Homo sapiens: one gene and its partners. The protein of the gene in region 3 purifies or fractionates together with the protein of the main gene of each other region. This does not show direct contact. Each region holds a gene or a part of one and is shown on either strand. Other genes may lie near its edges.

Region 1 (4,009 bases), on a different chromosome or scaffold from region 3:
TCTCTGGAATGGGTCAGGACCCCAGGGCTTGGCAACAGCAGCTGCTGATGCTTAGAACTGGAAGTGGATTAGGAGCTGTTTATACTATAATCAAATACATACATGTATTTATGTAGCAAGATTTCAGGGTGGGGGGGAGGGAGTTAAACTGGTTTGATCATTCTAGGGGCATAGACTTGTATTTTTATGTTTTGGGGATGGGATGGGGTTATCTTCTGTTGTAAATTAGGTGGGATATGAACACACTTATTTTCCTGGTGAGTAGGACACAGGGAGGGTATTGAACTCAAAGGAGAAGGAGCCTCTATTTCCTGTTGAGGCTTATACTTTCTGACAAGGAAACTCCCAAAGGGCCAAGATACTTTTTGGTCCCATGATAGTCAGGTTCCAGACTTCTTTCTTTTCTATTGTATTTGTATGTGGAAAGCCATTAATGAATTTATTTTACTCCAAGAGATACACATAAAAGGGAAAAGGGCATGGTTGGGAGGTTGAGCAGTAAGAGACCATTAATACTAAGTATTTTGCCTGAAATGCTTCTTTATAATTATTTCAGGGAAGGAATAAGATAATCTCAGACTTACTGGGGTGGGGCTTGGGGAATGTTTGGATGTTGCTCTTTTTCTTCTTCCTTCTTTTTTTTTTTTTTTTTTTTTTGGTTGGTGTTGTTTGGCATTTTTTTCTTTTCCTTTTTAAAGAAAATGTTTTCAGGAAACATGAACAAACATACTGCCAATTATAGTGGGGCTGGGAAGGCACAGGAGCTGGCGACCTCTCAGCTGCATAGTTGGGACGGCAAACCCTGCTGTGAGCTTCTCAGACTTTTCACCTACTTCACCTATTAAGAAGCCATGAGGAGTTGTAAACTCTTGTTCAGGGAAGAAAAGAGGGCAGGAGGAAGTAACCCAATGCCTTTAAATACAAAACAGATGAAAAACAAAATACTCATTTTTCCTTTTCTATTGTGGGTTTGGGGAGCCAAACCAAGTGTGACTGTGAGCACGTTCACTGAGAGGCATGACAACATTATTGAAGAGGTCTTTCCATTATGTCTGGTTCTCTTATTTTCTTAAGTCAAGCCTTAACTATGAACATACTTTAAGATGATACGGGTCTGTCACCATAAACCTGTAAAAGGGCATCGACAGCTTTTCAGATAATCCAGGAATGTTGAGACATGGCTAAGTTTCTAGCTGATACTTAGTCATTCCCTCTTGATATTGTTGGGATGGGTAGCCAAAAGGCAGGCTTGTGGGAGTTAAGAGCCAATGATACCTGGAAACATGGGAGGTAGCTGGGGGTACAAGTGGATGTTGAGACTGAAGGAAGAGGTGGAAAGAAGACACAGAAGGCACCCAGATGCCAAAAGGCCTGGCATGAATGAGAGTTGGCATCTGTCCTGTTGTGGTGTTCCCATTCTTGCCATACCCATTTGCCCAGATTGTTCTGATTCTCATGTTCAATTGACTATCCCACATGAGACTACAGTTTATAGGCAGTGAGGAATTGTTTCTTCCTGGGAAATGTCCTTCCAGCAACTTCAGAGGAATGGGAAAGTGTTAATCTTACGTGAAGCAAAGGAGCCTGGACTAGGGGCAGAGAGAAAGAAGCAGCAGCCCACCTTCTTTGTGTTTGCACATGTGCCTATGTCGTGTACATTGGTACCTGACTGTGGCTCAGATCTGCGTCGCAGCAGCGAGAGAAGAAATCACTCCATATCCGATGAGAGGAAGGGTGGCACAGAGATGGTGTCTACAATTAGAGACATTTCTGACTCCACCTTAGCCTAAGCAAACTTTATATACTGAGTAACATTTGAAGGTTGTCTTTTAATGGTGGGGGGTGTTTTTTCCTTTTTAAACTACAGTGCTTGCACAAGAGAGGGAGGGACTCAGAAAAGGTTAGGGCAGGTGAGGGAGACAGTAGATGGCCTGGGATGACTTGAGTCCATCATACTATTGCTTGGCAGGTGTCCTCCCCCATGTTTGATTCAAATTCCATGAGTGACCTACCTTTCCCCAGGAATGGGACTGAGAGGGTAGTCTCCAGCAACTCAGTCTGCACAGGGCTCCCCGTTCAGGCTGCCTTTGGTGGTTGTGCTTTTGTAAGTTTCTTTCTCTGCACTTCGACTTACCTCTGAATCAGAAAGCAAGCCCAGCAGGTGAATGAGGGATGTCTGCTTGGCATTGCCCAATCTAACCAGGGAGGCTGGCTGGCCACCCACTGTCCGCTAGAGGGGAGAGCTAGCAGGTGTTGGTATGAACTCAGGAATAGAAACACGAGGCCTTTTTAAATACGAGGGAGAAGAATCCATGATGCATACCTGTAACCCCCTAGAACCCAAGTGCCAGAATTCCTAGATGCTGCTTCTGTTTGAACAAAATGTCACTGCTTTTACACTTGAAAAAAACACACTCGAAAAATGTTCAACTCCATGAAAAATATTTTTTGGCTTTAAGAAATTGTTTGGTGTTTAACTGTTTCCTTTGATTGCCATTCCACCAGTAAATTGTTGGTTGATTTGCACTGCACTCTGGGGTTGGGGTTGGGAGGGGAGGGTCCTTATACAGAGCCGAACCTGGGGTTGCTCAGGAAGTGGGCCAGGGAATGTGGAAGTCGTTGACATTGCCTGGGCCAAAAGAGTGGGAGATAGTTTTTCTCCCCTCAGCCCACTCCTGGTAGCACCTGTCGCCAGCCTGGTACAAAGCCAGGCCTTTTTCTTCTGTGAGCATCTCATCACTGTCCAGCAGCAGGTGGAAAAAGGGGGACAACAACCAGACCTATTTTTTCTCCCCCATTTTTTCCAAATTTTGCTGTGCCAAATGTTTAAAATTTTATAAATATGAATCTATTGAAATTTCCTTAATCAAGAGCTTCTTCGTGTAAAGTTTGCTTTTTTAGCTATAGAAAAAGAAAACAGTAAATATCTCTTAATGGCATCCAGCCTTGCTGAGCTCACCTTTTTTCCTGAAGAATGGGTAGGAGTGAAATATTTAATGTAAACATTTCACCAAGTCCCTTTACCCTAATTTTGAAGCTGCATTAAACCCAACTCACTAACACAGGGAATGATTGCACCCTAGTCCTCTGTGGGCCAAGAAACTTTCAGAAGCATTAAAAAAATAGTTGAAGTATATCACTTCTCACCAAGTGGGTAGAGTCAGTTGGCTGTTTGTCCCTTGTTTTTTATTTATTCCATAATTATGTTTGTGCTTTTTGTTTTGTAAACAGTAATGGAACGTACATTTTTATTTTGTTTAGAAGACAACTTTGATTCAATCTTTCAAGAACTGTTCCATTCTTGGTTTCTTCTTAGGGGGATAAAAAGTTACCAGTTAATTTGTTTTGAGATATTTAAGCATTCTTTGAGTTATAGAATTGTGATGCAGGGATTTGTGAATGAGACATTTACATGTGAAAGGTGACTTCACTAGTTACCTGCTTGAGCAGAGTAAAGTGTGTATATGTACATAAAATGTAAGTAATCTTAACTCCATTGTGCAGTGCCTTTTAGATGTTCCGCTTTCTATAAAGTCTTCAAATTTTTGCATATATATTATATATATATGATGTAATGTTATAGAAATATATGTATAATATACATATTTTTTCCAGGGGTATCTGATAGCTCTGTATTTTGTTATGGAAGTTGAAAGAAAAAAGTATTTTACCTCAGAAATTAAATAAAAAAATACTTTTAAGTAATGTTTGCTGAGAGTTGGTTTTGTTGTTCATCATACACTGTGCTGGGGTGGTCATGCCAGAGAATTTGCCAAGTCCGTCCTCGCTCCCCCACCCTCATGCATTGTTATTCCTATTGTACAGGTACCAACATAGTAAGGAAATAGGTCTCTTAACAGTTCTGGAGATTTTCCATTTTCTTGAGTGAATGGCTGCTACCAGTTAAAACTAACTGAAGCCAGAGACGCAAGTTAGGTGGAAATTTCTATCTCAAGATTATTGTGAAGATTCTTTAAGAGTACATGTCAAAGCCAGACACAAAAGACCA
Region 2 (4,009 bases), on a different chromosome or scaffold from region 3:
AGTAAATCATTCACAAACTTTGGTATTTCTTAATTAGTAAAAAATTATCTGCACCATAATCATAGCTGAGTAAGACATGCAGGACACTCATTAAGAAATGTGATGTAGTGATTTCTCCATGTTCTGAGTTTGTCTCACGCAATCGTTTTCAAATCAGGAAAAATATAAAAGTGCTTAACAAAATGCAGAGCCAAGCTTACTAAAGTTAGAGAACAACTGTAAAACCAAAACTTTACTTATGCTTCCCTGACCACACACCCCAGCCTGGAATTATTCTTTTTAAAATTGCAGAATATTCTTTATGTTGAAAAGAAACTTGAAATGCAAAATACTGTTTTTCTAAACCAGCCACCTTAGTGCCCACAGATCATAGAATTCATACATTCTTTTCCCTGTGTGTAATGTAATACAGATGTACTTACAATACTTTAAAAGTGTTTCCAGCATTCAAGGATTAAATGCTTCACATCTTTTAAACATTATTTCTCTTTGAAATAAGCAGTGTTTTTTTCAAAGTTAGTAGCAATTATATAAAAAAGAAAAATGAGATTATATCAGATACCCAAGTAAAAGATTAACTTACAAAGTAAAATATAAAATGGTGATAACTAAATTTTTCTTGGGAGGAAATAAGACCTGGACTCTCAAACAGGAACTTTTCAAGTGGCATCCTACAAGCACTTGGCAATAACTTATCTTCTGTGCATTTTAGCTAAATCATAAGGCTTCTAATGAAAGGCATTTTTCAAATAAGGGAATGTTTTTTACTTGTTTCAGTTTTTGGTAAATAATTTTCAGTGCATATTTAATGTTTTAGGTATCTGATTTCTTTTTGTAATATTAAATCTTAATTGGGTTTCTCTAGATTTCCAAAGCTGAAACCAAGAAGCAACAAAAAGAGTTCTTCAAAGGCCACATGAGAATCAGAGCCTAAAATTATTGCTGATATAAAATATGTTCCTAGCAGAGGAATGTTCAGAGGTACATAAAAATTACTATGCAACAAGTTAAACATGCTTTGGATCCTAAAACTGTAATGATTACACTTATTTGGATCCTGAAACTGTAATGATTACACTTATTTGGATCCTGAAACTGTAATGATTACACTTACTTGGATCCTGAAACTGTAATGATTATACTTAAAAAAACTTGGTTCCTGTTTTACATGCTAAGCAGGCACTTAAAAAGCACTAAGGATGCAAAGATTTATAAGAGGCTTGTCAACTGATAAATTATTTTAAAAATATTTTATGCAATGAAAATCTGGTATGTTGTGTGGTTTTGATTAGAATCAGTGGATTTTATTTAGTGTTTAGCCTAAAATGTTGCAAACTTCTAATCAGCAATACGCTATTGAGTGTCAGTAAGCTTCTGGGCCACAGCTTTCCAACCTGTTAAATGAAGCGTTCAGATTTCACTAAATAATCTTTTAGCTGAAATTCTGAATTTCTTAGATTTTTCTACTACAAGTGGTTACTCTTAATCTACCATTAATATTTATCAGTAATTTAAAAGTAAATTTTGTAAACTGTTCATAAAGAAAGCCTATCAGACACATATGGGGTTAATATTTTATGGACTTGGAATTTAGTTAAATGAAGCAATAACTTTTACTGGTTGTTTGGGTTTGGAGTTTAACGCTGAGTTAAAGTTCCGGCTCCATCATTCACTGGTCTGTGATCCTGGACAAGTTACTTAAGTTATTTAATCCTCAGTTTCCATGCTTGAAAATGGGGATAATGACAGTATCACTTCAGAGAGTTACTGTGAGGGCTAAATGATAAAACACAGAAACTGCTCACTCATTTATTTAAGCCCTAAGCACATGTGTTTGTTTTATATTTTTATTTACCAAAAATAACAACACTTTCCTATAGAAACTCTAGTTCAGGACAAAGTCACTGGATTTCATTAGCAGTGAACATACTGCCTTTATGTGCATTTTGCATTTTAAATGTAGCCTTACAACTTTCTGTATGACCTTCAAATCATTATTTTATTGTCACATTTACTTCCAAGAAGATAAAGGTACTTTGAATGTTTCTGTTTCCACTATCTTGAAGCAAGTTTTAAGAGCCCAGCTTTGCACTGCCTAAAACACTTAGGTTTAGCTCCTTTGCAAGCCATTAAGCTACTGAATCCTAAGGGACAGCTTTATCTTTTTGAAATTTTCACAAACTCTGGTATTTCCATTAATATAATGTCTCTGCTACCATAAGACAAACTACTTAGGTTTGGAGGAATTAAGATACTAACATTTGTCTTTTCTCTTGCCCTCTGGGACCCTTCTTAGACATTTCCTCTTGTTATTTCACTTGCTCACCCTCACAGGTTCACTGGCTGACCCTGCTCTGGGCAGCCTCATGGGCGCATTATGAGGGCAGAACGGCTCAGTGGGCCAAACAGGTGTTACAGTGACATATATAAATAAAAGTTGTCATGATAATCAAGGGTGTGCTTTTAATCTTGACTCTGTCACTAACTTTCAAAGAAACAGGCCAAGCTCTTGAACTTCTTTCTCTGTACTTTATTAGCAAATTAGTGTGCTTTAAAAAAAAAAAAAAAACCTCCTCATAACCACAAAAGACAAGTTTTTAAAGAAACGAAATCACAAACCACTTTATGTCCCATCTGATCACTGACACTCCATGGATCATCGCCCCTTCCACCTGCTAAAAAATACCAAAACTAAGTTTGAATTTCTCCAAATTTAGCAATCTAGTAGCAGGCCCTAGGCCACAGTATTTTTCCACTAAAATAAGATCATTGAATTAGGTGATCACTAAGATCCCTTCAGCTCTAAATTTCTACAATTTTTGATACTTAACTATATTTTTTCACAGTTGTATTTATTTCTCAATCTAGGTTTCTAGATTAAAAGTTCAACTAAATTATTCCAAAAAAGTTTTAATTCTTCTTTTATTTAAACTTTAAAAGGTATTATTTAAAATTTCTCCAAATAATACTTCTGTGTAACAATTTTTGCAACTCCTAATGTTCAAGTCATATAGAAAAGGATTTTGCCATAGTTAATCTTTTTCTCACCCAATCTCTCTTAGTTTTCATATTTTAAAAATCACAGTAGTTAAGTTAGTGGTTTGATGCACTTTGTTTTGGGATTTTTATATATCCACATAAATGAGGACGATACCTGCTTGACATGGAGAGTAGATCATGAATTGTGTAGTACAGACATATGTCTTAATTCAGAAAGCTCACCAGTTCAGAACTGCATTTGGTAAATTATCCTATTCTAACCATGATATTTAAACTATGGATGTGGTTAAATAAAATGGCCAACTATATATTTTAAAACCTGTTTTAAAGAGGGGCTTACAAGGCTCTGACTTGTTCTAGATATTATTTCTTTGAAATCTTTTCTGATTTTCGCTGGTAAATTCAATTACTTTTAAATCCACAAGGCTTGAGTTCCAGTCTTATCACTGGTCCTTATGAGCTATAACTCCACAAGGAGACTCAGTTTTGCCCATCAATATAATGGTAGGAAAGATACCTACTCATGGGTTAGTTTGTAAGGACTATAACAGGTGAAAATGTTTCCAAAGTGTAACTTGCTAAGCTAGCATCAGTAATAAGATTTTATACTCCAAAAGTAATTTGGCACTCCTAGCAAGGAAATGACATACTTATCAGGAATTATATTTATGATTTATGACAGAGACAGAGACTAGTTAGTAGAAAAAGCATGAACTGAACTCTTGACAAACAGGTCTGAGTCCAAATCTTAGCCTTATAAACTGTACAAACTTAGTTTCTTTGGGTAAGTCAATTTTTCAGAGCCTACGATTCCTAATCAGGTAAAGTAGAGAAGACATAGTACATACTTTATTAGAATTAATGCATGTGAAAATGTTATAAGCATTAGCCTGGCATTTATTCTTCAATTGATTGCTCAAATATTTACTTAGTGTCTACTATGCACAGGTAGTCTGCTAGGTAATGGAAGTTCATAGAAATAAACCTTGCACTTTATGGGGGGAGGCAG
Region 3 (4,748 bases):
TTAAGATTTTAAATGCTTTTTAATTTTAACTTTCTAAGATTTCCTCTATCATGGATTTTGAATTTAATTATACTGTGTATTGTTTTCATGTTTCTTGCACATAGGGTTTGTTGAGATTCTTGTATTTGTGGGCTAATATCGCTTGTCAAATTTGAAAAATATTTGGTCATAATTTTCTTTTTTTTGAGACCGGGTCTCGCCCTATTGCCTGGGCTGGAGTGTAGTGGTGTGATCATGGCTCACTGCAGCCTCAACCTCCTGGGTTCAGGTGATCCTCCCACCTCAGCGTCTTGAGTAGCTGGGACCATAGGTGTGCACGACCACACACAGCTAATTTTTAAATTTCATGTAGAGATGGGGTCTTGCTATGTTGCTCAGGCTGGTCTCAAACTCCTGGGCTCAAGCAATCCTTCCACCTCAGCCTCCCAAAGTGCTGGGATTATAGGCGTGAGCCACCATGCCTGGCCCATTATTTTCAGATTTTTTTTCTCTCCTCCTTCTCCCTGCTCTGTTTTGGGACTCTAATTACATGTATCTTAAGCTGTTTGAAATCCCATAGCTCAGAGATGGTCTGTTCATTTTTCAAAAATCTCCGTTCTCTCCGTGTTTTACTTTTGATAGTTTCTGTTGTGATGCCTTCAAGGTCATCAATCTGTTCTTCTGCAATGTCTAATCTGCCATTCATCCTGGCCAGTGGATGTTTAACCTCATATATTGTAGCTGTCATCCAAAAATTTAATTTAGGTTTTTAAAAATACGTATTTTTGTCTCTACTTAACTTTTTGAACATTTGGACTACAGTTACAATCACTGTTTAATTGTCCTTGTCTACTAATATCTGTCAGTGCTGACTCAGTTTTGGGATATTTTTCTTCTCATTATGGGTCACATTTTCCTGTTTGTATGCCGTAATGGATTTCCAGACATGTGAATTTTATCCTGTTAGGTGCTGAATATTTTGTGCTCTATACATACACTTGGATATTGTCCTAGGACACAGTTAGGTTGGAAATACTTTCATCCTTTGGCACATTGCTCTTAAGATTTGTCAGTAGGACCAGGGCAGCGCTCAAGTCTAGAGCTAGTTATTCTGACTACTGAAGTGAAACCCTTCTATGCATCCTGCCCCGTGCCCCACTGAGTCAGGGATGTTTTAACTCAGCTGGTGGAAGCAATTGCTATTCCCAGCTTGTGTGAGTGTCTAGCACAGGTCCCTCTCACACTCTTGGGTGGTTCTTACCCGGCCATAATTAGTCTCCATGTACACGTGATCACCACTGCTCTGCTGAAAACTGCTAGGCATGTGGCCATCCTCCAGCATTCTCTACCAAGCTCTCTCCTCTGCCGGACTCTGTTCTGCAGGACTCTGTTCTGCAAACTCCAGCCACTGTGGCCTCCCTGGGCTCTCAGCTTTCTCTCTTCAATTTAGGGAGTCAGCAGGGCTCCAACTGAGATGCCCCGTCCTGCTCTGCACCATGGAAATTCTGGACAGTAGCTGAGACCGTTGTTTCTTGGGGATTACGATTCCTGAAAACCATCATTCCATAGATTTTGTCAATTTTTTGCTTCAGGTGGGAGGGTAAATCTGATCACTGTTACTTCACCTGGGCCGAAAGGGGAAGTGCCGGCCCCATTTAATCCCTAAGCAAACAAAAGCTTAGACTGTCAACAATTCGTTAACAATCCTGTACCATTTGAGTGCTGGGGCAAGAATCAAATACGGCTGTCTGCCTTTGGCGGGGGGTGGGGGTGGGGGTGGGGGGGTGGTCCATATCCCTATCCAGTAGACTTTACTGCCCCTAATCCTGCAAATTGTCACCAGCTATTTATTGTCTGTTTTGATTTTTAAAGGTAAAGTTAACAAATTCCGAAGGAAAAGACTTCTGTGGTGGTGTTATAATACGGGAAAATTTTGTACTGACAACAGCAAAATGTTCACTGTTACACAGGAATATTACTGTAAAAACATGTAAGTATTTTATCATGAGTTTTTATAAAACCACATTGGAAATACACTATCCTATGTAAGAATGAAATGACAAATTTAAAACTGGACTGTTTCTAATGCAACATAGAACTGAATTTACTGTCAATAAAACTGAGATACTTATCAACTCAGGAAGCATATGTAAAATACCAGCAGAAGCCTGGGCCCAGCGACAGGCAAGTGCTAACTCACACTCGGCAAGGGAGGAAATCACAGCCTACATAAGGATGACTTCATTTCCCACTGAAATTGAGCAGTTGTGGCATAAGAGATGGATAATTGGCTAAAAATCGGAAGAATGGGGCTCGAATCCCCCAGCAGTTGAGACCTCAGGCTGAGGCAGTGGCCTTCTCATCGGCTTATCTGTGCCTATTTCTTTCTTTTTTTTTTTTGAGACAGAGTCTCACTCAATCCCTCAGGCTGGAGTGCAGTGGCATGATCCAGGCTCACTGCAACCTCTGCCTCCTGGGTTCAAGCGATTCTCATGCCTCAGCCTCCCGAGTAGCTGGGACTACAGGCATGCACCACCATATCCCACTAATTTTTTGTATTTTTAGTAGAAATGGGGTTTTGCTATGTTGGAAAAGCTGGTCTTTACTCCTGGCCTTAAGTGATCGACCTGCCTCGGCCTCCCGAAGCGCTGGGATTACAGATGTGAGCCACTGTGCCTGGCCCTTAAATATTTTTCAATCAACAAAATAACGTGAAAACCACTTCTCAACAGCCAATGTTTGACTGGCCTGGAGACGTTCCACATCACTGCTTCCTGCTTTTTAATCATTTCACCACACCCCACTGCACTCCAAAACAGAAGAACTAACCTTGACTGTTTTTAAAGGCTGTGGCACTTGGTTGCAATCGTGCAATCTGTGAGTGGCCTTTCTGTCCGCAGAAAGGCACAGTGTCCACACCACGGGGCGGTGAGCCTGCGGGTCCTCCAGGGCCGGTCTCTCCCTCCTCACGTGGCTCCCTGAGAAGCTCGTTTGAGCATTATGTCCCCTTGAAAATCAGACTGTAAAGAACTGACGATTGTTCATGATTTCAGATTTTAACAGAACGAGCCAAGACCCGCTGATGATCAAGATAACGCACGTCCATGTGCACATGCGGTATGACGCGGACGCGGGGGAGAATGACCTGTCACTGCTGGAGCTGGAGTGGCCCATCCAGTGCCCAGGTGCGGGGCTCCCCGTGTGCACCCCTGAGAAAGACTTCGCTGAGCACCTCCTCATCCCACGCACCAGGGGCCTCCTCAGCGGCTGGGCACGCAATGGCACTGACCTGGGCAACTCGCTGACCACGCGGCCTGTCACACTTGTGGAGGGGGAGGAGTGCGGGCAGGTCCTGAATGTGACTGTCACCACCAGGACCTACTGTGAGAGAAGCAGCGTGGCGGCCATGCACTGGATGGATGGAAGTGTGGTCACCAGAGAACACAGAGGCTCCTGGTTTCTCACGGGGGTCCTGGGCTCGCAGCCAGTAGGAGGGCAGGCTCACATGGTCCTTGTCACCAAGGTCTCCAGGTACTCACTCTGGTTTAAACAGATCATGAACTAACTGAAACTCAGCTAGCCAGAATGAACAACACAACCGGAAGCGGGATTCCAAGCTGGCACTGCCACTGTGGAGGGCGCTGAAACTTCATCACACACTGAGAGGCCGTCACAGCCCCAGACCACCCGCTTGGCCCACGCAGCAGCAGAGCCGCCGTTTGCTGGGTTGTTTACCGAGCACTGTGACCTTTCTTTCCCTGGAACTCTTTATCTCAATAGAGACCTTAAAAGAAAACATGAGATACGTTAAATAATAAAATAAGATAATCTGTCAGTCATAAAGCAGCCTGGTTTCCAGAAATTCTTTCCTTCTCCAAGTCCAGTGTTCCCTGTGCTCAGGGAATAGCCACCCCAGCCTGCACACTGGTGAGTGTGTTCTGGTGCAGAAGCGACAACAATCTCCGGTTACAGCAGAAAGTGACCTCCTCTGTTGGTTTACCAATTGCCACTGTGACTGAGGACCATGGCTCAGTGCAGAAGCAGCCACTAGAAGCAGGTTGGCAATGGAGGAGAATGACCCTGTGGGTATCCCAGAGAGGCAGCATTAGAGGAAAGGGCCAGAGAGCACAAGAGAGGCTGAGGAGGCACGCCGGCGTCTCACGGGGTTGTGCACCCGCCCTTCTCTGGGAGGGTTCCCACGGAAGGTTCCGGGGCCCGAAGTCAGGGCTGAGCACTGAGACCCAGCTCTCTGCTCGTCCCACCAGGTGGCTCTTGGACAACTGTTCCACCTCTTCATGCCTCAGGGTCGCCCAGGGTAGAATCCCAGCACCTCACCAATGGGCTGATGGGCAGCTAGGGCAACGCCCAGCACTGTTGTGGCTGGAGTGTGTGTCCCTTCAAAACTCCAAAATTGGAACTTACCCCAAGATGATGATATGGGGAGGTGGGGCCCTTGGGAGGTGACTAGGCCATGAGGGCTCTGCCAGCCCCTTCCATCTCTTCTCCCATACGAGGACACTGCAGTGAGGTGCTACCCTGGAGACAGAGAGCCCTCAGCAGACACCAAATCTGCCGGCACCCAGATCTTGAACTTCCCAGCCCCCAGATCTGTGAGAAATGAGTTTCTGTTATCACCCAGTCCATGGTATTTTGTAGAACAGACCAGGACAGCACGTGCTGAATCACAGTAAACACCTGCTGTCATGAAGGCTGCAGCTGCAATGCAAGTACCAAAGACAGAGCTGCAGTCCAGCCCCCAGTGAAACGTC
Region 4 (4,037 bases), on a different chromosome or scaffold from region 3:
CGGTGCACTGGCCCCTTCCCTTCCCCGCCTGCCTGCTCCTCTCCCAGCCTGCCAGCTGCCCTCCCTGCTCCCCTTCTTCTCCTCTCCCGGCAGATCCACTCAACTTGAACCCGGACTCTGAGGCTTAGCAGCCTTGGAGAAACCGTACTCTAGGAAGAAAAAAAAGCACACAGGAAAGAGACTCCTGACCCTTCCTCAAGGCTGCTCTCGCCCCACCTCATAACACTGGGCGCAGGCACAAGCTCCCAAAACTTCGGAATCTGGATACATTACTGTCTTGGAGGGGGTGAAAACTGCCCAGCAAAGCAAGCCGGCCTCTGTGCCCCTACCCAGCGGCCTCCCGCGGCCGGCCTTCCCTGGGAGCCTCGCAGAACCCCCGACCGAGTCTGGGAACGCCCGGGGGAGACAATAGCTCGGGCCTGACGCCCGACAGGGACCCTCTGCCCTTCCTTCCTCGCTGTCTTGCTCCCGTCCCTATAGGATACCCACCCGGCCCTGTTGCCATCTCCCTGGAGCGCCAGCGGTGGAGGCTTCGGAGGAGCCGGCCGGATGCACCGGGACCCCGCGGGGCCTAGTTGGGAGCGCGCCGCCCACTGAGGCCTGGGGGCCCGGCGAGGCGCGGGGGTGGCCAAGGCAGTCTCCCCGGCACACAGATCAGCACATGTCTACGCGCACACACCCAGCACGACCCTCCCTCCCCCAGCACACCCCAAGGGCCGCGCCCTCCGCTCCTGGGCCTGGTGGCCATGGTCCATGTGCCCCTGCCGGCGCAGGGGCTGCCCTGGAGTTCTCCATTAAGCCCTGCGAGCACTTCAGGAAGGAGCTCGGGCTTCTGTCATCCCGCTCAGCACATCAAAGCGCCGACGGCCGCCTTCGTGGGCAGGTGTGAGCGCTCGCCCTCTCTCCTCCCGAGCCTGCTATTTTGTGGTCCAGGACTTGCCATCAGAACTTGCTTTAACGCGACGAGGGAACTCACCTGTGTGCAGAGCGCCGCGCACACATCGGGGCTCGCGGGACAGGGCAGCTGCGTTAGCGCAGCGCCGGGTGTGTTCGGGTAGGTGTTGCGGGCAAGGAAGTAGGCAGCGGCCCCTGAGCAGCCGCCTCGCTCCGGCATTGCGGGGACACGGCGGGGCTGAGGCCACGAGAGCAGGGCCCGAGCCCGGCGGGCCGTGGTTACGGTTTTCTTGCACTGAAAAACTGAATCCGGCCCGAAGCGACGTGCACTTTATGGTCCCCACACCACTCGGTTAACTAAGAAAAGACCCGGGCGAATGGACCTAACGCAGCCCGGTGCCGAGAGGGCCCGGTCCAGCAGCCTCTGGGGCCCAGTGCGCAGGGCACTGCGGGCCGATTGCGCCCCGGGGCCAGGAGGCGCCGAGAAAGCAAAAGCAAAAGCCGGCGGCGGGTGGAGGTCAAGCGGCCCGGTGCAGGCCGGGGACCGGGGAGCCGCCCCGGGAGAGCAGGGTCCAGGCCTTCTCTGTCCCCCTCCAGCCTGGGGCTACCTCAGGGACTCCTCGCGCTGCCAGATGCTTCGGACCAAAGGGCATTTCTCTGCGCCCTGAAGTCCCGGCTTCTCTAGAGGAAGTCTAAGACGTTCGGGACCCACGAAGATGCCTGCGGAGGGGCAGGAGAAGAGGCGTGCTTTTCTGCCCCATCCCTTCATCTTGCGATTGGGTTGTTTTCTATCGTCCCCTTTGGCACAGGGAGTCCTCTGCGCTCGCTGCTGTGACCGGCCCAGTTAGTTGGGAAACAAGGCTCAGAAAGAAGGCCGCAGTGGTGTTTCTGGGGTAGGGTGCTTGGCCCTCCCTGAAGCCAGGGCTCAGGGCAGCACAGGCCAGGAGCTCTGCCGGGAGAGACCCGGAACCAGAGTCTGGGTCTAGTTGTCCGGTACCTGTGCTCATTCTGAGATTAAAGTGCACGCCCCAGCCTCAGAGAATAAAATTGGAATTCCAGGACATAAGAATCCCCCTCGAGGGGGAACTTGCTCTGTGTTTGTGCGAGCATCAAAACAAAACATAATGATTCCAAAGCAATTCTATGACGTGCAGTTGGTGTGTTTGAGCTACTTCTAAAGCTGGGCTTTCTCTACCAGCTGTCTAGCAATTTACTAAAAGGCACAGCAGCACCTTTTGTACTCTGAGGCAAAATAAGACACCCTGCCATCCACTGGATGACTTTGTTTCTGAAGAGGTTTTTTTTTCTTTCTTCTTTCAGTGGGACTGCCCCGTTACCAGCATCACTCTACTCCAGTGTGTGACAGAAAAGATTTCGTCCTCAACTTCAATGGGATTTCTTCTTTCCATCCCTCAGCTAGCGGGTCGTATTATCACCATCACCACCAGAGCGTCTGTCAGGATATTAAGCCCTGCGTCATGTGAACGGAAAGAGGCCAAGCGATGGCCGCTCTCTCCTCTCCCCTCCTCAGAGGGGGCAGATAGAAACTGGGACGGATTCAAGTCACATGCACGCGGATAGCAGTAAGCCACACACCTGCCACTTAGCCAGAATGCCCAGGATCGCGTTGGTCACTGTTATTTGCCTACTGCTGGAAGAAGGACAACCGCTGGCAAGGTAGCGTTCCCCAATCTGAATACCTGCAGGCTCCCACATGAGGGAGAGGGCAGACTCAGGTGGGAAGATGTGCCATGCGTAAGGCATCAACGTGTATCTGTGGGATCTTCGTTGCCTTCAGTAATCAGGGTGTGAAAAAAGCAGACAAGTTGTGTGTGTGTGTGTGTGTCTAAGAAAACTTGTGTGCTTTTCAAAAAGGCAGTGCTAAGCACAAGATTTCAAGAAAGCCTCTTCTTGTTGCCTAGCTGAGTGGGAGAGTCATTTTCCCCAGACACTACATTTGGATACAGGTGCCAAAGAACATTATTAAGGAATTATTTAGAAACAATGTGTCTAGTTTAAGAAAGTGGTTTTCAGTATTGTGACAATACAACGTTTTTACAAGGTTGTTTTCTACCACCATATTTTAAAGATATTTTTATGACCGTGTATACTCACACTTTGCTTGTATTTTAAAAGGAGGATATATTTGCACTTATGTATACTTTTACAGTTTGCCAAAATATTTTGTTGTAAAATTTTTTTTCAATAAAATGTATATAACAAATAGTTGTTTTAGGGGCTGATTTTCTCTTCGGGCACCCTGAGAGCAATGGATGCCAGTTTCTCCTCCCCGGCAGGCAGCTGTGCAACTCTACCCACACCCCCTCCAGTGGTGTAACTGACATGGTGTGGGGTCTGTGCCTTGAGTAACACAGGCCAGGTTCTGATTGTGAGTCTTCTCAGGAGAAAAACAGTGGAAGAAACGTTTTCTGTTATTTCTTTCTTTACTTCACCCCAGCTTTTTCTGGCAAAACAAAAACCAGAAGGTGAAAGGAACTAGAAAGAAAACCAGGCAAGATACCGACCAGGGTTTGATTTTGAGGAAACCAATTTTGTGCCCCTTCTGTTTTCTTTCCTGTGCCCGGGGAGTGTTCTGCCCTTTGCCCTCTCTCCCTCCCGACTGGCATGGGTTGACAGATGTGGGGCACAGTGGTAAGCCCCCCTCCAGGGTTGGATGCCCAAAGAACAGCACCCTGCTTCTTCCCTTTGCACGTTGCAATTTTGTTATGGGTGGCGGTCACATGCTGTCAGAAATGGGGTTCAGATCTGAAGAATGCAGGGGGATCCCTGAGCTGCAGGGGGCAGGCTCCCAGCAGGGGGTTTAACTTCCTTGGGGAGTTTAATACAGAAGCTGGACTCCCCACACGTTGCTCTGTGGCTGCGGCCTGTCCCACCCTCCAATTCAGAGCCTGGCTGGCCCTGCTCAGCATCGGCACATAGCAAGCCGGTTCAGCCCTTCCTTCCTCCCGGCCTCCTCTCCCCACTCCTCCCTTTTAACCAGGGATTTAACAAGGGAACCCCTCAGCCCCTTTTTCTGTTCCTGCTAGATTTCCCAGTCACCAGTGTTACAGGCAGAGCTGGTGACGCTCCCGATGGAAGAGCAAAATGGGCCAACTAGGCAGGAGGACTGACCTTCTGTCCCA
Region 5 (4,009 bases), on a different chromosome or scaffold from region 3:
GCAGGAGAATCCCTTGAACCCGGGAGATGGAGGATGCAGTGAGCTGAGATAGCGCCATTGCACTCCAGCCTGGGCAACAAGAGCGAAACTACAGCTCAAAAAAAATAAATAAACAAAATAAAATAAAATAAATTCAAAAAATAATCAGTTTTTGAAAGGGCAGAAGACAAAACCCTGGGGATAACCTACATTTAAGGGATCAACAGAAAAAGAGGAACCTACAAAGGGGACTACAAAAGAGCAGCCAGAGAAGCAGAAGGAAATGTCACCAAAGCCCAAGGATGGGCTGGACGATATAAGAAGCCACAAAGGGGTCAGGTCAGCCCTGAAAAGTATCCATTCAACTGTGCAGTAAAGGGGCCAATGGCGAGCTTGGCAAGAGCAGATTCAATGGCGTGGAGGAGCAGAAGCCGGAACACAGCCGACCGGGAAATGTTTAATTAACAGGAAGTTAGCATAAAGAGGCAATGAGAGCAGGTGATTTTCTAGGTTCTTTTCAGAAAGTGAGCTATGAAGTAAGGAAGAAAGTGTGAGGTGTTATAAGGAAAGAGGATTTTTTACTTATCTTTTTTTTTTTTTTTGACTCAGAGCCTCACTCTGTCACCCAGGCTGGAATGCAGTGGTGCGATCTCAGCTCACTGCAGCCTCCACCTCCCGGGTTCAAGCCATTCTCCTGCCTCAACCTCCTGAGTAGTTGGGACTACAGGCACATGCCACTACACCCGGCTAATTTTTGTGTTTTTGAGACAGAGTCTCGCTCTGTTGTCCAGGCTGGAGTCTATCTCAGCTCACTGCAACCTCTGCCTCCCAGGCTCAAGCGATTCTCGTGCCTCAGCCTCCCGAGTAGCTGGGATTACAGGCACGCACCACCACGCCCGGCTACTTTTTGTAGTTTTAGTAGAGACGGGGTTTCACCATATTGCCCAGGCTGGTCTCGAACTCCTGGCCTCAAGTGATCCACCCGCCTCGGCCTCCCAAACTACTGGGATTACAGGCGTAAGCCACCCTGCCCGGCCTATTTTTCATTTTAAGATGGAAGAACCTTGAATATGTTTATAACTTGAGGGAAAAGTGAAGTTGAGAAAAGGCTCAGGAAATGAGGGAGAAAGCCAAGTGATAAGGCAGTTCCTTGAAGAAATAGAAGGAATAGAATCAAGTGAACAGGTTAAAGGGACTGGCCATCAACAGAAGTTAATGAGCAAGAAAGAGGGTAGTGGCAGGGGAGTTTGTATATATAAGGACACCTAAGCAAACCAAAGTCAATCAGGCTGTAGTGCAGTGGTGTCACCACAGCTCACTGCAGCCTCGACTTCCTGGGCTGAAGCAATCCTCCCACCTCAGTCTTCTGAGTAGCTGGAACTACTAGTGCATGCCACCATGCCCAGCTAATTTTTTGGGTTTTGTAGAGATGGGGACTCACTATGTTTCCCAGGCTGGTCTCAAAGTCTTGGCCTCAAGCGATCCTCCTGCCTCGATCTCCCAAAGTGCAAGGATTACAGGTGTGAGCCACTGTGCCCAGCCAAGAATTTTTAACTGGGTTTATTTAATCTAGAGAAAAGTAGTTGCTAGGCGTAAGCTTAACAACAAGCTTGTATCTATATTTTAAAAGTTAGGGCCTGGCATGGTGGCTCACACCTGTAATCCCAGCACTTTGGGAGGCCGAGGCAGGCAGATCACCTGAGGTCAGGAGTTTGAGACCAGACTGGCCAACATGGTGAAACCCCGTCTCTACTAAAAATACAAAAATTAGCCAGATGTGATGGCGGGTGCCTGTAATCCCAGCTGTTCAGGAGGCTGAGGCAGGAGAATCGCCTGAACCCAGAGGCAGAAGATGCAATGAGCCAAGATCGGACCACTCTACTCCAGGCCGGGCAACAAGAGTGAGACTCTGTCTCAAAAAAAAAAAAAAAGGCCAGGCACGGCGGCTCACACCTGTAATCAGAACTTTAGGAGGCTGAGGCAGGAAGATCCTTTGAGCCCAGGAGTTCACGAAAAACCTGGGCAACACAGGGAGACCCCATCTCTATAAAAAAATAGTTTTTTAAACAATATATTAGAACCCTTTTTCAGACCCTTTCCCAACCATTCAGCCCAAATATCATTAGGTGGGAGCAAGTAAGGTAACCTAGAGTAGGGTGCTGGCATCCAAGCACGGTGAGGAGGACATCCTTGCAGAGAGGCTGCAAGAGTGATGGCAGAGCATGTCACAGCTTGAGCACAATGAAGAGGGTGAGCCTGCAGAGGGGGACCTGGTGTGGGGTACCAGAGCCCAGGTAAGGTGAGGGGAGCATCCATGATGCATGAGGGGTGGCAGCCATAGGAAATTGGTCACATACAGCGGAACTGATTAAATAAGTCAATATATTAAGGAGAATGGAGCCAGTTGGAGAAGGGAATTACAAATATGGAAAGGAAGGAAATGAGAATGAACCCCGTGGTGGCTGAACTGGAATTGGAGCTATCAGTGCGATCCCATGGTTTTCATACATACATCTGTACAAAGATTTAGAAATAACATATATGTACGTATATGCACATATATTTCCCAGCTCCTCCACTAAGAGGGTATGGGAGCAGTGATACCCAGGAATAATGACCACTCCCAACGCACATATCTCCATTTCAAAATATCATCCTCCACTTCAAAATATCATTCTCCATTTCAAAAAAGGGCTCCTTGGAGATGTGGGTGATTCTAGGACTGGGGCAGGGAAAAGCATAAGATGAGCCTAGAATATTTTATTGTGCCAGAAAGTGAGAAAGTGCTCAAAGAATAATGGGGACACATCAAAGAAAACCACACAGAAGCTAGCCTGAAGGGACTGGGACACTCCTGGGATCATGTGAACATCAAATAGATGATAGTAACATATTATAGTCCATTCAGTAACATAGGAATTCCTGAGTCCATACTGATTTAAAAATAATGAATTGAAAGTCTGATGAAGGTCTCAAAGTTACCTGCCACCCCCCCCCACATAAGGTACTTATTAATTACAAAGGGGAAAAGAGTAACTTTACAGTGAAGAACAGTGGCAGACATCATCGTCATCCAGTAAGCAAAGCTGATATCATCAGTAATGAGACAAATCAAAACCATGCACCACTTGATAGGATACAATAAGAACAGAGCATCCCTTCTGTGACATTCCTGCCAGAGATGCATAACCCAAAGCTAATCATGAGGAAGCACCACACAGACCCAAATTGAGGGACAATACACAAAAGAACCATGTCAAAGTCACGAAAGTCAAAGAAAGATTAAGGAACTAGTCCTGACATGACAATTAAATCAACATATGATTCAGAACTGGATCCTTCTGCTATGAAGGACCACTGGCAAAAGTTGAATGGGACCTGAGGATTAGACAGTATGACACATCAGTGTTAATTTCCTGATTTTTTATGGTTGTTTTGTAGTTATGTAGAAGAATGTCCTTGTTTGTAGGAAAGACATATTCAAATATTTGGGGGTGATGTGGCATCATGTCAGCCACTTATTCTCACATAATTCAGGGACAAAAAATTTTTTTCTTTTTTATTTTTGAGACGGAGTCTCACTCTGTCGCCCAGGCTGGAGTGCAGTGGCGCGATCTCGGCTCAATGCAACCTCCACCTCCCAGGTTCAAGTGATTCTCCTGCCTCAGCCTCCTGAATAGCTGGGACTACAGGCGTATGCCACCACGCCTGGCTAATTTTTTGTATTTTTAGTAGAGATGGGGTTTCACCATGTTAGCCAGGATGGTCTCGATCTCCTGACCTTGTGATCTGCCTGCCTCAGCCTCCCAAAGTGCTGGGATTATAGGCGTGAGCCACCGCGCCTGGCCACAGAAAAATTCTTTATACTGTATTTGCAACTTTTCTGTAAGTTTAAGACTTTCTTTTTTTAAAGTTACTAGTAAGAAAGATTATTCAGACTATACCTCCATTAAATAGGAATCTACATTTATAAGAAAAAAATTATGACAATTCAGAAGTAGTAGATGCCATTTTTTTTTTTTTTTTTTGG
Region 6 (3,050 bases), on a different chromosome or scaffold from region 3:
ACACATGCATATATATTGTCAATTGTGGGAAGCTTTACAAGTTATATTCCATGCACTTTTTGGACAGAGTTCTAACAGAGCCAGCCAGTCCACAAAACAGGCAGACAAAAGTTGAATTAACTGGGGCAAATAGGACTCTTATGCAACATCCAAAATATCTGACATTCTGCAGCAAACAGGGAGTACCTTCAGGATTGGCCTGTTATCTTCTTTAGAACTAAGTTCATCTTAAAAATTTAAGAAGGTGGACATTTCAACACCATCAAGTGCATTTAGGTGACATGTTTAAGTTAACTTGACTTCCTTGAATGACCTAGTTAGTAAACTAGTCACTAGTAATTCGGTCACCAAGCAAATCAAGCCTGCAAGAAAGGAAGCCAATATTCAAAATGCCATGTTACCATCTAAACCCATACAAATTAGTTTATTTCCAACAATAATAGGTAACTTTAATAATAAGACATCTAACTAAAGCAAGCTCCTCCAACAAGACCAAGACAGCATCTCTTCTTCTAAGGCTTAGGTTTTGCCCAGAATTCCCGATACATGGAATAGCCCATACCTAAAGAAAAAGAATGCTAGTTAAGCATTTCAGTATTTTCTTAAATATTCAAAAATAAAAACCAGTTCATAAAATAGCTGAAAGTAGCACCACTGCTAGCATGGAATATTTACAAGGGGAATAAGACCCTAGGAAGCTTATACTCTTGCCTTCTTAAACATCTTAAATCTCTAAAACTCTTGTTACATACAGTAGTTTCCCAAGTAGCAAAGGGCTGGTATGGCTACTTCACATGTTACAATATTTCTTTGAAAGAACAATCAATATTTATCTGGTAACTTTGAAAGGAATCACTCTTGCTACATAATACCAGATAAAGTCAATGAATTATAAAGCCAATAGAAGAAGCATGTAATACCTAAACTTTAAGAATCTCTCCTTTAAAAACACAATAAAATAGCAATTGTATGTCTCTCCCAGATAACAGATGTTACTATCAACCCCAATTACATGTCTAGGCTCTTCAATGAAATTATAAACTCAGTGATTGACAGGATTTTTTTTTTCTTTAAAATCTTAGTAGGATATATCATAGAAAAACTATGTCACTACTTGAATTATCTTCATTAATTCATTTTTTACATGAAAATGAGTATAAGTGATATTCTCCAACTGCTAAAAGGTCAGCTAAAAATATTTACCTATTTTGTTTGTAAAGAAATACCTTAATGAGAAACGAAAATTTGAAATTTCCTATAGGAACCTACCAACAGTCATTGCTCCTACAACAAAGCCTTGGGCTGCCACACGCATGTGGATCAGATGAATGGACATTTTAGTATTTCCCCTGCTCTTCAGTTTATATAATCCATATGCAACAATTGCTGCAAAACCCGCTATTCCTGTAAAACAAAGTAACAAGTATGTCAGATGCATGAGAAGGGACCAAGATGACTTTACCATCAGTCAATGTACATTCTATTATTTTTATGAGGATTCTTTATCAGATCATTAATTAGCTAACATACAAATTGAGTTTTTCATGTTTTCCCCTATCAAAACCAAAAATCTTTAAGCAAACAACAACAGATCCAGAAAGTCAGGATTATCTTTAAAAACATGGGTTTGTGGGGCCAGTAGATAAACTCCTTTAAAAAACTGCTAGGGAATTAACAGGAACCTAGATTATGATTATCAGAACGAAAGTGTGCCAAAGGTCTTGACTTAGAGAATGAATTTATTCCATTTCCTCTCTGTCCTATTTCCCTCCCTCAAGGTAATCAGTTAATATACCAGAGACAATCCTACACACTACTACCACTGAGAAACATTGCCTGAATATTTCAAACTTTGGGATATTGTACTGGGAAGAAGTAAATAAAGGAAAAGAATAGAGCAATATTAGTTTCAGTTAAAAGGATTATGATCCTAGAGTTCTATACAGAGCCAAACTCTCATTCATTTTGAGGGCAAAAGCATTCAGGACATGACCTTCCATGTTTTCTTTTTAAGATTTATTATTTTATTTTTTAAGAGATGGGGTCTTGCTCTGTTGCCCAGGCTGGAGTGCAGCCGCACAATCATAGCTCACTGCAGCCTTGTTCTCCCAGGCTCAGGTGATCCTCTTCGCTCAGCCTCCCTAATAACTGGGACTACAGGAGGGCTGTCTTTCCCAAGCTGCCACCCAGGTACTGATACAAAAACCTAGAGGAAAATATCCAGTCAAATAAAAACAGTGAGTCAAAATGGACAGTTCAAGAAATAAAGACATAATGGTTAAGATATAATGGTGAGCAATAAAGACAGAAAAATCTGTACTGGTTCCTTGAAAATGACTGGTATAATATAGCAAAATTAAGAATCTGAAATTAGGCTATGATTATCACAACAAAACGTGTGCTAAAGGTCTTAGGGAATAAATTTATATTCATTTTAATACAGGAAATAGATGAAAAAAACACATCCTAGTTTGACAATGTAAAGATAACCACCAGCAAGCAGTGTAAGAATAGCCGCAGAACTTCCAAATCATAAGGAGGAAAAAAAAATTAGGGCTGGGAGCAGTAGCTCACACCCATCATCCCAGCACTTTGGGAGGTTGAGGCAGGTGGATCACCTGAGATCAGGGGTTTGAGACCAGCCTGGCCAACAGCCTGGTCATCTCTACTAAAAATACAAAAAATTAGCCGGGCATGGTGGCATGCGCCTGTAATCCCAGCTACTTGGGAGGCTGAGGCAGGAGAATGCTTGAACCTGGGAGGCGGAGGTTGCAGTGAGCCGAGATCACACCACTGCACTCCAGCCTGGGCGACAGAGCGAGACTCCATCTCAAAAATATATATATATATATATATATATATAAATTTTTAAAGTCATAAAACTTTAAAATAATCTAATATAGCAGCAAAATAAATAAATGGAGCAAAAATTGTTAGGAACACAAGATTAGCTCTATTAGAAGACAACAAAATGGGAAAATCTGTCTCTTTCAGAAAACAACAGAATAAGAAGCCCCAAACTAAAGCTACAGAATTGCACGGCACCATTA
Region 7 (4,528 bases), on a different chromosome or scaffold from region 3:
GCAGCTGCTTGGCTTCCTTCTAGAAGCCCCGGGAGCCTTTAACTACCCCAGCTCCCTTCGTAGTGTCACTGTCCCCACCAGGGAGGGGCCAGGCACAGTCTGTGGGTCATCAGGCTCAGGAGAAGTTCTGGACAGGGTGGCTGACCTTCATACAGGCCCAATAAAGAGCCCGGCCCAAACACAGCACAGCCAACAGGATGACAAATGCCCAGGCTGCATAGATGCCTCCATATCGCCGTGCATGCTTCCATGTGCCAAACTGATGAAGATAAGGAGGGAGAAGAAAAGAAAGATGGGGTTAATGTTGGTCTCCACTACCTCCTATTAGTTCTAAGAACAGTAATAACTCACGCTTCAGTCCTTGTTCCTTATCCACATGTAGCCACCCTCAGGGACCTTCTTAAAGGCAGAGCTGATCAGCTTCCTTCCCTTAGGCGTAACATACTCATCCCATCCCACACTGTATCTCAGTTTTTCTTAATATCTGACAACTGAGCCAGGTTTGAAAAATAGCAACTCTTAAATTAAGAATTTCACTGTCCTATCCTCATCCTACAGAGAAAGGAAGGCTGTTTTTCACTCTTGTAGTAGTAATAAAGTCTGTTTGATCAGCCACTTTGCACTTTAGCTCATCCATATCTTAAAACAAAACAAACTAGTCCCCCAAGTTTCTTCCACTTTTTTTTAGGGTAGCAGTTTCCCAAATCTTAGCCTATGGAGATGAGGCTGCAGAATGAAAGAGGTTGGGGCAAGGGTACTCACGGCAAGGCCAGTGGCAGTGACTGCCAAAAGCAAGCCAAGCAAGAAGCAGCAGATACATCTCTTACGTGGGTATCTGCGCCCAATAGATGACCTGTGGGGAGGCAAATAGAAATGGATGCTTTCTATGGCCTTGTAGTTTTTACTCCATACATCAATTACCAGCTCAATCCCTAATCACTTACACTTTCCTGCAGTGAGGACAACGTGCCAAAGTGCGGTCTGTGAACTCTGTCCACTATGGAGAAAGAAAACAAAAATAATAGCACAAGCAGGGTCTCCCTCAATGAGAACCTTGGGGTGGGGATGCAGAACATGTTCCCATAGGACAGACCTTTCAGGGGTCATTACCATTACTCTAAGAAATATACTCGAAATGACTCTTAGTCTCCTTTCCCCTCCCCTTCCCAATACCCCTTCCTCACCAGAAAAGTATTCTTGCAATGTCCACAGATAACCCTGACACCCATGGGTTGGGGTTCTGGACTCAGAGGTCCGGGATGCACAGGCCCCAGGTTGATGATTCTTTTGCTATACAAAAGAAAAAGACTTGTATTTTCAAACTTGTGTTTGAAAAATTTTTAATCCTAAAAATCTTCACAGTCCCTGTTCCACATCCCCCACTCCCTGTCTATTAAGTCACTCGACTTCTCTGTACTTAAGATACTCTGTCCCCCAACTGTATACCCTCAAGAATCCTTGAGAAAGAAAGAGCACTGTTTAAACTTCAGGTCCCCAATTCCCCTCCGACCTCAGGATAACACACCCAGTCCCCAAGGCTCTCTATTCTCCGAAACGACATCATTTCATCTCAATATTTTTATTGAGAAACGAGAAAGACAGCTATAACATTCCTGAGGCACATGCTTCAAAGCCTTTTCTCCTAAATAAACACTAGGCTCTCTCACCTTTACATTCTCTGTATACGCTCATCCTTTTTTGACTTTCCAGTTCCCCACTTAGGCCCTTCCCCACCTTATGCCTCTTACCAGTAGGGCCGAGGGCATGCAATCCGTTGGGATGTCACTTTGCAGATAAGGAGACAGTTACAGGGGCATCGAACATATTTTTTCCCTGGGGGTGCATTCTTGATTGGCTAGAGAATAATAGGGTCATCAGCAAGCAAACCTCTAATCCCAATCCCCTCCACTTCCCTCCAAAAACACTTTATGAGATCAGAAAAATAAGGTGCTAACCAGGAAGGAGAAATAAAAGAAAGACTATATCATGAGATTTGCAAATAGGAACTAGGCTAGGTGTAAAAGTGAGAGAAAGTGAACATTAGCTTTGGTGAGTGGCTTCTGGGGAAATGGCTGTGTGAGACACCTGGAACTGAAACCTGGGTATCATCAAAAGCACTTGGCTAATAGCCGGAAGGTCAGGGTCTAGAACCAAGACATCAGAAAGAGGATCCAGGAAACAGGGCCCATTTCATAGATATGTGTAACTCACGGTGGCTTCATTGCAGACACCACATTTGACTACATGCTGATGCATCTTGCCTTCCACGTTGATGAGAGATTGGCAGACTCGGCAGGTGATCATAGGGGCACTCCCACTGTCCGGGCTAGTTAAGGGTGAATAGGGGGGTGGGTCCTCCCCAGGCAACACGGCTGGATGCCCCTCGGGAAACGGGGGAAATGCTGGAGAGGAAGCAAATAGAAGGGCTGGGATCACTTACACCCCCACTGATGCTCCACGGTGGTAGGGAAGTCCTTCTGATCTTCAACCCTCTGACCAAGCTCGGAGGGCTTCTCATAATTGGCACTTCTATCAGGTTGCTCAGAACCCCCTTCCGTCCCTAGGCTGTGGTCGCGATTACGGAGGGAAGGAAGCCTCGCCCAGTCACAGGTGCAGCAGTCCCGCACCTGGCGACTGGGACCCGCCTCCGCCCTCGGTCCCGCCCCCTCCCCGGCTTTCAGAGTACCCCGGGGAGCACCTCGGACCCGCCCCGGCTTACCCTGGGGCGGGGCATGTTTACCGGCTCCGTACGGTGGTGCGGAGGGGGTCAGGCCTCCCCCGGGCCCAGCCCCACTCCCGCCGGGCCCCACTAAACCGTTGCCGCCCGCGCCACCGTCGATGGGCTCAGACAGCAGCGGGGAACGCTCTCCATCTGCCGCCATGGCCGCCACCGCCGCCTCCCGCTCAGGTCGGCGATCCGGCTCCCTTCGCCTCTGCCGTCGCCGCAGCCACCGCCACCGCCGCCACCGCCACCGCCGCTACCGGGTCCCCAGGGCGCCTGCGCGCCGCGCGCCCAGCTCACTCCGCAACCAGTGGCCTGCCCCGCCCCGTTCCGTCTAGCAGCACGTGATAGGCTATCCCCGCCCGGGTCATGCTATTATTCGCGTAGATAAACCAATTCCTGGTCCTGTGAAGGCAGCTCTCCTTTTCCATTGGGGAGCGACGCACAAACGTCAACTGTCACATGACCTGCCAGATGCTGCTGGGCTTGCAAAACCTGCACGTGACTAGAGGTTCTGCAAGCTATTGGGAGCGACGCCCATCGCGCTACCTCCAGACCAGGAGGTAGGGCTAGGCTGCGTCTGCTCAACTGGTCACGTGTTTCTGGAAGCTGCACGGTCCCTGTTGCTCTGCTCCTCATTGGTTCAAAGACACCACTAAAACACTTTTCTCCGGCTTTGCGTTGTAGCTGGTTTCCTATTGGCTGGTGACTTTACTTCTTTCGTCCTGTGATCCTAGCGGCGCAACTGCATTGGCCCGAACTTAGCGCCAGAACATGGGGGGCGTGGCTTATGCATTTTAAAGGAGGCTGGGCGGGTGCAATAAAGGAGTGCGGAAGCTTGGGATCTTCTGAGCGGGGAGAAAATGGACGGTGGGGAACAGTAGACAAAGTTAGCTGTTCTACTCAAAGAAGTACCTTTAAAAAGTCAGAGTAATGAGGTACCAGAAGGAAATGGATTAAAAAGTTAAGATTATCACTCCAGCCTTTGTCGCTAGAGTCACTTTCAGGACAGGACACAAGACTGGGTTTTCCTGGAAGCTGTCCTTACAGAGCCCCGTCTTTCCCCATTGCTGATCAAATTGTTAAATTATCTTTTCATTAGTGTCTCCACTACTAGAAGATTTCATCGTTTTACTAAAAAAAAAAAAAAAAAAATTCAATAGAGATGGGGTCTTGCCTATGCTGGACTCAAACTCCTGAGTTTGATCTCCTGCCTAAGCCTTCCCAGTAGCTGGGACTACAGGGACAAGCCACCGTGCCTTTACTCAGTTTTATGACCACCAACCTTTAACATACGCACAAGTTTGTAGATTGGATTAATCAAATACAAGGTTATTTTCGTCACCTTATTTGACAGATGGGACAGTCTTTAGGCCTGTCTCAACTTTGCTTCCAGCAAAGGGGCAGTGCCTCCTCCCCTACCTGAAGTCTCGTGTGGTCTTTATGGGCGCCTGAACCACACCTGGATTTTTTCCCAAGTCATAGCCCAAACTGGGACTGCTTTAAATATGGGAAGCAACAAGGAATTGATAAAAACAATAAACCCCGAGGAGGTCCATTATCAGTTTGGCTAGCAGACTCTCCACTAAGAAAGGAAGTGCATCAAAGAAAGTACAGCCAGCCCCAAATATGTAATAACAAAGGAACTGCAGATGTCCCAGCACTTGGCTGCTACAGGGGCTGGAGACTTCACCTAGGTCCTGATTTTTTTAGACAGGGTTTTCTCAGGCCAACTTCTACTTGGAAGCTAGTAACCTTCGACCAGTTAGATAAGAGCCCCTAACAGACACTTAAAGAACTAAGGAA

Evidence for each region.
Region 1: the proteins of PROZ (region 3) and ETV3 purify together in Homo sapiens (affinity purification with mass spectrometry; 2 studies listed by BioGRID and IntAct, with this or other methods). This does not show direct contact.
Region 2: the proteins of PROZ (region 3) and ZNHIT6 purify together in Homo sapiens (affinity purification with mass spectrometry; one large-scale study listed by BioGRID and IntAct). This does not show direct contact.
Region 4: the proteins of PROZ (region 3) and FOXF2 purify together in Homo sapiens (affinity purification with mass spectrometry; 2 studies listed by BioGRID and IntAct, with this or other methods). This does not show direct contact.
Region 5: the proteins of PROZ (region 3) and ACOT9 purify together in Homo sapiens (affinity purification with mass spectrometry; one large-scale study listed by BioGRID and IntAct). This does not show direct contact.
Region 6: the proteins of PROZ (region 3) and HIGD1A purify together in Homo sapiens (affinity purification with mass spectrometry; one large-scale study listed by BioGRID and IntAct). This does not show direct contact.
Region 7: the proteins of PROZ (region 3) and PIP4P1 purify together in Homo sapiens (co-immunoprecipitation; one large-scale study listed by IntAct). This does not show direct contact.

The regions. Positions count from the first base shown.
Region 1 is NC_000001.11:157,120,887-157,124,895, reverse strand, and holds the end of ETV3 (ETS translocation variant 3), read left to right. Parts: coding exon 1-55; 3' UTR 56-3,705; downstream 3,706-4,009. UniProt on the Homo sapiens protein: Transcriptional repressor that contribute to growth arrest during terminal macrophage differentiation by repressing target genes involved in Ras-dependent proliferation. Represses MMP1 promoter activity.
Region 2 is NC_000001.11:85,659,603-85,663,611, forward strand, and holds part of ZNHIT6 (box C/D snoRNA protein 1), read right to left. Parts: intron 2,676-4,009; coding exon of another isoform or gene 2,657-2,675; exon of another isoform or gene 2,516-2,656; intron 1-2,515. UniProt on the Homo sapiens protein: Required for box C/D snoRNAs accumulation involved in snoRNA processing, snoRNA transport to the nucleolus and ribosome biogenesis.
Region 3 is NC_000013.11:113,168,562-113,173,309, forward strand, and holds the end of PROZ (vitamin K-dependent protein Z isoform 2 precursor), read left to right. Parts: intron 1-1,240; exon of another isoform or gene 1,241-1,527; intron 1,528-1,851; coding exon 1,852-1,969; intron 1,970-2,808; exon of another isoform or gene 2,809-3,032; coding exon 3,033-3,544; 3' UTR 3,545-3,825; downstream 3,826-4,748. UniProt on the Homo sapiens protein: Appears to assist hemostasis by binding thrombin and promoting its association with phospholipid vesicles. Inhibits activity of the coagulation protease factor Xa in the presence of SERPINA10, calcium and phospholipids.
Region 4 is NC_000006.12:1,392,482-1,396,518, forward strand, and holds the end of FOXF2 (forkhead box protein F2), read left to right. Parts: intron 1-2,214; coding exon 2,215-2,378; 3' UTR 2,379-3,122; downstream 3,123-4,037. UniProt on the Homo sapiens protein: Probable transcription activator for a number of lung-specific genes. Mediates up-regulation of the E3 ligase IRF2BPL and drives ubiquitination and degradation of CTNNB1.
Region 5 is NC_000023.11:23,726,104-23,730,112, forward strand, and holds part of ACOT9 (acyl-coenzyme A thioesterase 9, mitochondrial isoform a precursor), read right to left. Parts: intron 1-4,009. UniProt on the Homo sapiens protein: Mitochondrial acyl-CoA thioesterase. Catalyzes the hydrolysis of acyl-CoAs into free fatty acids and coenzyme A (CoA), regulating their respective intracellular levels. Regulates both mitochondrial lipid and amino acid metabolism.
Region 6 is NC_000003.12:42,784,759-42,787,808, forward strand, and holds part of HIGD1A (HIG1 domain family member 1A, mitochondrial), read right to left. Parts: intron 1,405-3,050; coding exon 1,270-1,404; intron 563-1,269; coding exon 513-562; 3' UTR 1-512. UniProt on the Homo sapiens protein: Proposed subunit of cytochrome c oxidase (COX, complex IV), which is the terminal component of the mitochondrial respiratory chain that catalyzes the reduction of oxygen to water. May play a role in the assembly of respiratory supercomplexes.
Region 7 is NC_000014.9:20,458,444-20,462,971, forward strand, and holds the start of PIP4P1 (type 1 phosphatidylinositol 4,5-bisphosphate 4-phosphatase), read right to left. Parts: upstream 2,992-4,528; 5' UTR 2,883-2,991; coding exon 2,741-2,882; coding exon of another isoform or gene 2,720-2,740; intron 2,403-2,719; coding exon 2,212-2,402; intron 1,856-2,211; coding exon 1,749-1,855; intron 1,291-1,748; coding exon 1,185-1,290; intron 998-1,184; coding exon 945-997; intron 854-944; coding exon 763-853; intron 260-762; coding exon 116-259; 3' UTR 1-115. UniProt on the Homo sapiens protein: Catalyzes the hydrolysis of phosphatidylinositol-4,5-bisphosphate (PtdIns-4,5-P2) to phosphatidylinositol-4-phosphate (PtdIns-4-P).